Regions from separate parts of the Homo sapiens genome. Here region 1 is linked to region 2. A link means that fine-mapping ties the variant in region 2 to the expression of a gene that starts in the linked region. Tissue or cell type: sun-exposed skin. Region 2 holds a variant in brackets; the other region holds the start of a gene. All regions are shown on one strand. Distances are between the middles of the regions.

The links. PIP is the estimated chance that this variant, and not a neighbour inherited with it, causes the effect.
Region 1: PDZD11 starts here. The variant in region 2 is the best candidate, but not a certain one, in a credible set for the expression of PDZD11 in sun-exposed skin (GTEx, PIP 0.85).

What each region holds. Positions count from the first base shown.
Region 1 is chrX:70,287,777-70,292,895 of GRCh38, forward strand. PDZD11 (PDZ domain containing 11) reads right to left here and starts at 2,151. Exons shown (of 7, transcript NM_016484.5): 1 at 2,084-2,151; 2 at 1,479-1,578; 3 at 654-737; 4 at 341-397; 5 at 1-54. The coding sequence starts at 1,565. It overlaps KIF4A (kinesin family member 4A), which reads left to right and starts at 2,328. Exons shown (of 31, transcript NM_012310.5): 1 at 2,328-2,374; 2 at 2,662-2,802; 3 at 2,915-3,029. The coding sequence starts at 2,683. RefSeq lists a silencer at 2,129-2,308.
Region 2 is chrX:70,217,604-70,222,809 of GRCh38, forward strand. It overlaps the pseudogene RN7SL581P. Among named protein-coding and RNA genes, the nearest start is that of AWAT1, 14 kb to the right of the region's middle. The variant A/G (reference allele first, on the strand shown) is at 2,788.

The sequences.
Region 1 (5,119 bases), 70 kb after region 2:
AACTTGGTCCCCTTCCTGCAGTCCTGCTCTATGTGCATCAGAGTCAGGAATCACCTGTTGGTAAAGAGAGAATACATGTGATTGGGATGCGATAATTTCAGAAGACTGTCAGTGAAATTCGGTGCTATTCAAATGTATGGTGCTATTGTTTTTCTGTGACAATGTATGCAGACAGATGGCCTGCCAAATGAAAAGTTTTAAGTGGGAAAGGGGGTGTCTCCATTATACCCCTTCTATGAATCCAGAGTCATCCTCTCAGCCCTTGGGACATTAGGGTTCTGCAATCTGTTAATTTAACAAAGGGAAGTAACGATCCATATTGCCTACTGGGCATAAATACCTTGGAGATGAAGATGCCTAGCTGGGAGGCCTTTCCTCCTCGGATGTTAAATCCCAACTGTAAGACAAGAGCACAGAATGGGGGCTCAATGGAGACCACAAACACAAGAACAACTAGTAGCATCATCGTACAATAGCTCAGCTTGTGTGTCCCTGAGAGGAAAGTCAGAAGTTGCAGAAGTGTTATCTCAGCTTTTCTGTCCACAAGAAGGAAAGTTTCCTCACATCTGCACCTGCTTTCCAATCCATCCCCCCAACACTGCCAATTTGTGGTATGGATGAATCTAGCCTGAAATAAGGTTTCATAAGTTCACCTGAGCTCCAGGAGGCTTCTTCAGTGTGATGGTTCGGGGCAGAAACTGGGTCAACTCATTGTTGTAGTCCGGGTGGTGTACCCTCTGCAAGACACAGCAACCCCAGAAATTTTACCAGTCTTACTTCACACCTACCTTCATCTGAAACACTAATGAATTACCCTGAAGTCAGGAAAAGGAAAGGTCATAGACTTAATTTAAGTAGAACAGATAACACAGACTAAATGAGTAGATGGATAGCACTGGGGCAGCCCAGTAGCTCCCCATTTCTTCACCTTTTTTTTTTTTTTTTGAGATGGAGTTTTGCTCTTGTTGCCCAGGCTGGAGTGCAATGGCTCAATCTCAGCTCACCGCAACCTCTGCCTCCCAGGTTCAAGCAATTCTCCCGCCTCAGCCTCCCTAGTAGCTGGGATTACAGGCATGTGCCACCACGCCCGGCTAATTTTGTATTTTTAGTAGAGACGCGGTTTCTCCATGTTGGTCAGGCTGGTCTCGAACTCCCAACCTCAGGTGATCCGCCTGTTTCGGCCTCCCAAAGTGCTGGGATTACAGGCATGAGCCACCGCGCTGAACCTCTTAACAGTATGGAAATGAAGGCTCCAAATTTCCAGAATTAACCGGTGTGAACAGACCCTAGCAGGAGGCTTCCATAAAGAAGTTCCCAATGGGTCCTGTTGCTCAGAATCCAGCTTCTGGGTCCTCTGGCTACAAGTGCTAAGATTCACTCTCCGTTTCGCCTTCTAACCCTGCTATCCTACCTTTCATGCATCATCTCATGCCCACGGGGAAAAAAATCTCCTACTCAGGAATACAGATGGTTCCCACCTCATGAGGAGGAATCCATGCTGGAGGATTCTCATAGGCAGGCAAGAAAACCACCGGGTAGTCATCATAAGGAATCCGGCTGTCCATCTCGGGCAAGGCCCTGGAAGAGTGAATCAGAACAGACAAAAAGTGGTTCAAAAGGGAGAGCAGCCCAGCAAGTTTCAGACAGCAGCTCCAACCCATTCCAAGGCAGTCAGTCTACAGGCCCAGCCCATATCTAGGTGTTAAGGTTGGAGGAGAGAAGGAAGACAGAAGAAAACTCTTAACTTAGCTAAACATCTTCTGGATGCCAAGCAACCTGTCAGGTACTCTAGAAAGAGGACCTCATTTTTCACAATCCTGCAAAACAGATGTTACCGTCTCAAACCTGGAGAAGAGGAAATCAGGGTCGAGTCTAAAAAGATCTACTTTCGAAGCCCAAGGGAGTGTTAACTATCCGCAGGGACTCGGGGCAAGGCACCGCCCCACATTTCCTAGATGTGATTAGTAATGGTAGGGTCCTTAGATCGACCCTTCCTTCACCTGACCAGCCACCTCCCACGTCCCCGCCCCACATTCTGCCTGAGACCCGCACTCTCAGCCGCATAAACGCCGCACCACCTCACCAGTGGGCAGTCCACAGCGACCTCAGACTCCGCTCACTGACAATTCAGTCTGGGAACCGGAAGCGGATGCTCCGCAGGGTCGAAAAGAGGCCGGGCCAGGGTGCAACGAGCTGACCCTCCCCTTCCCACCGCGCCGGCCTGCGCGCGCCGACGTGCGCGCTCCGCCCTCGGGCAGTCCGCACTGCAATTGGTTGGCGTCTCCGGGACGGATTTGAAACTTGGCGGTTAAAGCTCCGGCTGGGACAGGGCGGCGGGAGGCCCAGGGAGAACGGGGAAGGGACATTTAGTTTGGTGAGTTACGGGGGCACACCTTAGCTCAGAACCTGTTTTTACCCAGTACCCTAGGGCTTTGGTTCTTTGTCGCCGTCCCCGTTGGAGTTTTTTCTTTGCCTTTCAGAAGCCCGTGCACTCTCTTTAGAGTGCAGGGCTGACGGGCGGTCCAGCCCTGGCCAAGTCATGGAGCGTGAATCTCCCAAGTCAGTGTTCCCGCTGAGGAGGGTCGGAACCGGGGAGGACGCCCTCCCACCCCTGCTGACCTACTAACATTCATCAGCGAGCCTTCTTTTTCCCCCTCGCAGAGACGGTGCTGAGATAGGATCATGAAGGAAGAGGTGAAGGGAATTCCCGTAAGAGTGGCGCTGCGTTGTCGCCCTCTGGTCCCCAAAGAGATTAGCGAGGGCTGCCAGATGTGCCTTTCCTTCGTGCCCGGAGAGCCTCAGGTGCGTAGCAGAGTCCAGAGCCTGTGTCTGAACAGCTGGGGCCAAATGGTAACGAGGGGTGTGGTCTTGCCTTTCATTTTTAACCTTACGCCTTGTCCCGTGCCTTCTCTAGGTGGTGGTTGGTACAGATAAATCCTTCACCTACGATTTTGTATTTGATCCCTCTACTGAACAGGAAGAAGTCTTCAATACAGCAGTAGCGCCACTCATAAAAGGTGTATTTAAAGGTAAGGCGATTTGATTCCTCGAACGTAACATATATATTCCTTGAGCATATACTATGTGCCAAGCACTGTGCTTGGGCACTGCAAATACAGGAATCGATGAATCATGATTCCTGCCTTCAAGAAGCCCTTAGCCTAATAACATTTGTCAACGTCTCTGTACCCTTGAAGCTAGTTTTATTCTGTATTTGCTTTATGTGGTTCTGTTCATCTTTGACTTGTATATGTTTGTTTATCCTGGAACTTCATTAGATTATAAACTCTGTGGTGGTTGCTGATGGTGATAAGTGTGCCAACCTACTTGAGGCCCAGGCACTGCAAAGCTTGTTGAGGGATTCAGGTGATAAATAATATAGCTTCGAGGCCCTGAAGGAGTTCAAAGTCCAGGGGATAGGAATGGAGATAGATGACTACATAAATAATTTTGAATATATAAAAATTTTTAAATTTTTTGTACCTATCTTTTAGAAGAAAAATTTTTCAAGTTAAAAATATACAACAGAGTCAGTCCTATGGAAGTAGTAGCTCTGCTCTCATACAAAGTGGTATGAAAAACAAAAGGATGGCTCTAACTCTGCTTGGGGAATTTGGGGTGAATTTCACAGAGTGGGAAAACTTTGAGATGGGTCTTGAATAATGAGTATACTTCTTTTAGGTGGAGAAGGGGAGTGCCTAAAGCCTCTGAATACTATCACCAGTTAATAATCTTTACTGGGGAAGCTAAGTCTTTAATGCTGTTGAGGACCATAGCAGGGTTCTAAAGAAGGGAGCAGTGCCTGAGAGATGTCTAATTATTATTCTAATACAGTGGTTATTCAAGATTCAAAACAGAGGTTCGTTTAAAAGAAGTAGAATCATGGCATGCTAGTGCCTTAAAGTTGAAAGAGACATTTGTATATCATCTAGTTTGTTTTTCATCCAAAGAAAAATGCGTTCTAACAATATCTGTTAGGTGAACTGCCAGTGTCTAAAATTTTTTTGACAGGGAACTCACTGACTCACAGGTAGTCCAGTTGAGATTTGGGTTTTGGACAAGTCTAATTATGTTATAAAGATCTTTATAATGAGATGAAATTTGCTTCCTGGTAATTTCTACCCAGTGATGTTAGTTCATTCCTTTAGAAGCCTTCTTCTAGGCAACAGCTATTCACATATTTTTTCACGTTTTTTTGTTTAATGATATGGCTCAAGGAACACTGAAATTTTTGTTTCAAAATTTTAAGATATTAATGCAATAATTTCAAACGTATAGAATGTTGCAAGAACAGCATAAAAAACATTTTTTCCCTGAACCATTTGAGATGAATCATTGGCCTGATAACCCCCCATACTTTAGTGTATATTTCCTACAAAAAAGGACTTTCTTCTAAGTTACCACAATACAACCATCAAAACAATAAAATTTGCACTGCTACATTACTACCATCTATTCCTGAAACCCCATTCAAGTTTCACCAATTGTCCCAGTAAATATTTTATGGCAAAAAGATCTAGTTCAAAATCACGTTTTATTTAGTTTTGCTGTCTCTTTAGTCTCCATTCTAAAACAGTTCTTTAGTCTTTTTTTGACTTTTATGAGTTTGACACTTTGAAGATTACAGGCCAGTTATTTTGTAAACCTTTTCTCAATATTGTTTTGTCTGGCATTTACTTATGATTAGATTCAGGTTGTGTATCTTTTAGCAGGAATATCACAGAAGTGGTGCTGTTTTCTTCTCACTGAAGCCTATTGGGCAGCACATGATTTTGATTTATTCTATTACTACTGATGTTCATTTTGATCATTTGATTAAGGTGTTAATCTGCTGGGCTTCTCCACTATAATCTTTTTCCTTTTTACATACAGTATTTGGAAAACCGTTAAGTGTTTCTACCTAATTCTCTTCAATTATCCCCGCCTTTCCTTTAGCCATTCCTGAAACAATATGCTTTTCAGACCCTGCACTATCTGGTCAGATTCCTCAGGCTATACCTCCACAGCTTAGTAAGAGCACCACAGTTCTACTTTTACATTCTTAACTTGGGAAACTGATAGAATTAAATTATGTTCTTTAAAGGCAACATAAAGTAGAAAGTGATTCCAATATACATGT
Region 2 (5,206 bases):
TTGGACTTAGACTTTTGAGTTAATGCTGGAATTAGTTAAGACTTTGTAACAGCCGGGTGCAGTGGCTCACCCCTGTAATCCCAGCACTTTGGGAGGCCAAGGCAGGTGGATCATCTGAGGTCAGGAGTTTGAGACCAGCCTGGCTAACATGCTGAAACCCCATGTCTACTAAAACCACAAAAATTAGCCAATTGTGGTAGCGGATGCCTGTAATCCCAGCTACTCAGGAGGCTGAGGCATGAGAATCACTTGAACTCGGGAGACAGAGGTTGCAGTGAGCCGAAATCACACCATTGCACTCCAGCCTGGGTGACAAGTGAGACTCTGTCTCAAAAAAAAAAAAAGACTTTGGGGGACTGTTGGAAGGGCATGGTTGTGTTTTGAAATGTGAGGACATGAGATTTGGGAGGGGCCAGGAGCAGAATGATGGTTTGGCTGTGTTCTTACCCAAATCTCATCTTGAATTATAATTCCCATAATCCCCATGTGTCGTGGAAGGGACGTAGTGAGAGGTTTTTGTTTTGTTTTGTTTTGTTTTGTTTTGTTTTTTTGAGACAGAGTCCTGCTCAGTCTCCCAGGTTGGAGTGCAGTGGTGCAATCTCGGCTCACTGCAACCTCTGCCTCCCGGGCTCAAGCCATTCTCCTGACTCAGCCTCCTGAGTAGCTGGGATTACAGGCACCCACCACCATGCCAGGCTAATTTTTGTATTTTTAGTAAAGACAGGGTTTCTCCATGTTGGCCAGGCTGGCCTTGAACTCCTGACCTCAGGTGATCCACCTGCCTAGGCCTCCCAAAGTGCTAGGATTACAGGCATGAACCACTGTCCCTGGCTGAGAGGTAATTTAATCATGGGGGTGGTTACCCTCACGCTGTTCTTGTGATAGTGAGTGAGTTCTCATGAGATCTGATGATTTTATAAGGGCTTTTCCCCTCTTCACTCATTATTCTCCTTCCTGCTGCCATGTCAAGAAGGATGTGTTTGCTTCCTCTTCCACCATGATTGTAAGTTTCCTGAGGCTTCCCAAGCCATGCTGAACTGTGAGTCAATTAAACCTCTTTCCTTTATAAACTACCCAGTCTCAGGTATGGCTTTATTAGCAGCATGAGAACAGACTAATAGACTAATACACTATATAATTCATTCTTTTAAAGTGTACAAATTCAGTAGTTTTTCATGTTCTTCACAATGGATGTCTATTTTAAGGCATCTGAGATAGTCCAGTCTCTGAGAAAAAATAATCCTCCAAGAGAAGCATTTCTTTTTTTTTAGGCTAGTCAATCCAAAAGAAGCATTTATGATGTAGCATTTCTATTGAGTGTTTGGTTTTACATAGTTAACACGAGTTTTTAAAATAATATATTTGGATTTTCTTTTCATTTATTTTCATGATCAATTTTGGCATTTTTACAGTGTGAGATGAGTCTTTAGGAACAAAATTACAATGTATTATTATATTGTGCCAATAGGATTTGAGTTTACCTTATGATAGCCTAATGTCTGAACTTGGCCCAGGAACAACTAAGCTATAAGTTATTTGCAAACAATATGGTTGTTTACTTTAAAAACTCAAGAGAAGAAGCTGAGAAATTGTTAGAATTCATAAGAGAGTTCAGCTAAATACAAGATAATATACACAAAAATAAACTTTTCCTATATACCAATAACAACCAGACTAGAAAACACAATGGGAGAAAGAGCTACAAACATTAATGAGATACATAAAGGAATGTGGGAATAAACAGAGATTTACCACGTTCCTGGATGAGACAATTCAATGTTGTGAAGCTATTATTTCCAAATTAAACTGAATGTTTAATGTACATAAAATACTAACAGGGTTTTGTCTGAAATGTAAGAAATTTATTCTAAAATTCATCTGAAAGAATAAACAGTTGAAATAACATATATATATATACATGTCTGTGTGTACACACACACACACACACACACACACACAGAATACAGGATAAAGGAAGCCTCACAAATAAACAAGGAAGAGGTGGATTGTTCAATAAATGGTGCTACAGGGGAAGTAAGCTATTATTTGGAGGAAAGAGTTAAAATGTCATGCCGTATACCTAAGTGTATTGTAATTAGATTAAAGAGTTTCATTTAAATCATCAAACCATAAAAATAACAGAATAAACTGAAGGGACTCTCAGAAGATGGGCTCAGGATTTAGAGTCCCTCTGCTTGCAGTTCCTTTGTGGTCTATTCCCTTAAGAGAAAACAGTGGGGCCCTCCTCAGAGCCTACAAATGTTTTTCCTTGGCCCTGGTGCTTTCTAGGCAGAAGCAAGACTCCAACCCAATGGCACAACACTACCTCATGTGCAGCAAAATCAGTGGTCAAGGTCCCTTAGCATTTGTTGAGCTGAAAAGAAATGAATGGGGCCTCTGCTCAGGCATCCCTCAGGTGCCTCAGGCCCAAGCTCACTTCTATTCTGTCGCTGCATAACAAGAAAGTACCAAGAGGGACAAGGGAGAGGTTGGATGTAATGTAGATAGGGGAACAATTCCTTGTTGAGGGAAGTAAACAGACCTTCAGACTCACTGCTGCTGCCAGGTCCACAACTGTCACAGGGAACTCACTCTTTTCAGGCCTCCACAACATAAACCACCACAGTCTCAAGGCACGATGTCTGAGGAAGAATTAAAAACATTGAGAGCCTACATGCTGGCTCCCAAGACCTGGTGGCGCTTTTTCTCAACAACCAGTTTTCCTGTTTTCCCCAGTAACTGGAAGAAAACAGAGCTTAGGGATGGCCTTGGACAGGGAACTGGTGA[A/G]TCAGAAAACACAGCAGTCATGCTGATAGCTAGAGGAGGGCTCCACCCGCTTTACAAACCAACTGCCTGGAGGTGAGCCAGGTAACACAGCCCCAAAGCATCTGTGCAAACAAGTCCTCCCTGAAGACAAGCAGAGTCTGGGAGATGCCTCACTCTTTATCTCCGAGATCTGTCACACCATATGACATATACAGGTCATTATAGCACATGGTGTTTGTAGAGGATTAGCAGTTCAGCAAATGTGTCAACCTGACAAATCACTCAGTGCTTTCAAGTGATCACTACCCTGTTCTTTGGTTATTTTAACAAATGCTTATGGAGTTCCTACTATGTGGCAACCACTGTTCTATTAGGTTGGTGCAACCTAATAGAACTACTTTTGCACTAAGGCTGGGTGCAGTGGCTCATGCCTGTACCAGCGCTTTGGGAGGCCGAGGTGGGCAGATCACGAGGTCAGGAGTTCAAGACCAGCCTGGCCAATATGGTGAAAACCTGTCTCTACTAAAAATACAAAAATTAGCCAGGCATGGTGGCACATGCCTGTAGCCCCAGCTACTCGGGAGGCTGAGGCAGAAGAATCGCTTGAACCTGGGAGGCGGAGGTTGCAGTGAGCTGAGATCACACCACTGCACTCCAGCCTGGGTGACAGAGTGAGACTCTGTCTCAAAAAAAAAAAAAAAAAAAAAAAGGAAAAAAAAAAGAATTACTTTTGTGCCAACCTACCAGATGTTGGGATTGCAGCACTGAATAAAACAAAGACTCTGCCCTCAGAGAGTTTGTATTCTAGTTTAGGGAGGCAGACAATCAATCAAGTAAGCAAGCCACACCATTAGGTAGTGATAAGTACCGTGAAGAAAAATCAAGGGCTCAGTGGGAGTCCTATTTCAGCTGGGGTACTGACAGAGACCCTTCCTGGAAATGTGTTATTTGGATAGAGATCTGAATGAAGTGAGGCAACCAGCTGCCACTGGGGGAAGAACAGTCCAAGCAAAGGGATGAGTAAGGACAAAAATACTGAGAAGGAATCTACTTGGCATGTTTAGGGAACAGCAAGATGGCCTGGTAACTGGCTGAGGTGAAATGAACAGGGGGAGAATGGAAGATGAGGTGAGAGAGGTGACAGGGACTAGATCAAGTAGGACCTCAGGGATCAAGGTGTTGACTTTGGATATTTTTTCTAAGTGAGAGGAGGAATTGTTGGAGGAGTTAAAATGTTTTATTATGAAAGTTTCTAAACAGATACAAAAGTAGAGAGAATAGTATAATGAACCTCCATAAATTCATCACCTAGATTCAACAATTATCAAGATAATACCACTTCCTTCATCTATTTCAAATTTTCTATTTTTGCTGAAGTATTTTAAAGCAAATTTCACCCTTACATATGTCACATCTGAAAAATATGAATATTTTCTTACATAAAAATAAAGCCATTATCACAACTAACAAAATTAATTCTTTGGTATCATCTAATGCTCAGTCCATAGTCAAATTTCCCTCATTGCCTTAAAAATATTTTTTCCAGTTGGTTTATGATGTCCCATAAATTATTTTCATCTAAAGCAGTCCTTCATCTCCTGTCCCTCACTTTTTTCATACCACGGACTTATTTTTAAGAAAAGGGGTCTCATTATGTTGCCCAGGATGGAGTGCAGTGGTTATTAATAGGCACGATCCCACCACTGATCAGCACTGGAGTTGTGACCTGCTCTATTTCCAACCTGGCTCAGTTCACCCCTCCTTAAGCAATCTGGTGGTCCCCGCTGCTCCCGAGAGGTCACCATATCAATGCCAAACTTGTGCCAAACTTAGTGCAGATACCCCACTGGCATAGCACACTCCAGCCCAGAGCTCCTGGGCTCAAGCAATCTTCCTGCCTCAGCGTTCCAAGTAGCTGGGACTACAGGTACGTGTCTCCAAGCCCGGATCCACTGACTTCTTAAAGAAACTAGATTACTGTCCTGTAAAAAGTCCTGGATTCTGGATTTCTCTGTTTGCTTCCCTGTGGTATCTTTTAATTTGTTCCTTTATTCCATTTCCTGTAAACTGAAAGTTAGTCCAAGGCTTGTTTAGATTCAGGATTAACTTTAGAGGTAAGAATAAGTATAGGTAGGTCCTTTATATATATGAAGTATACTAATACTTCATAAGTATAGGTTGCCCCACTTTTAGTGATTCTAAGATTGATCAGAAGTGCAGGTGGTGACAGCGTGATCTTTTCATTGTGACATTCTATATCCACCTTTCACCTCATGGTTTTAGCAGCCAATGATCATCATTGACTGACACTATTATTTCATCAGAGGTTGTACAATAATGTTTTTCTATTTCTGTCATTCCCTCCACACTTATTAGCTGATATGATACAGTATATTCAGAGACATCTCACTTCCATCTCCACCCCCTCTAACCTGTCCTT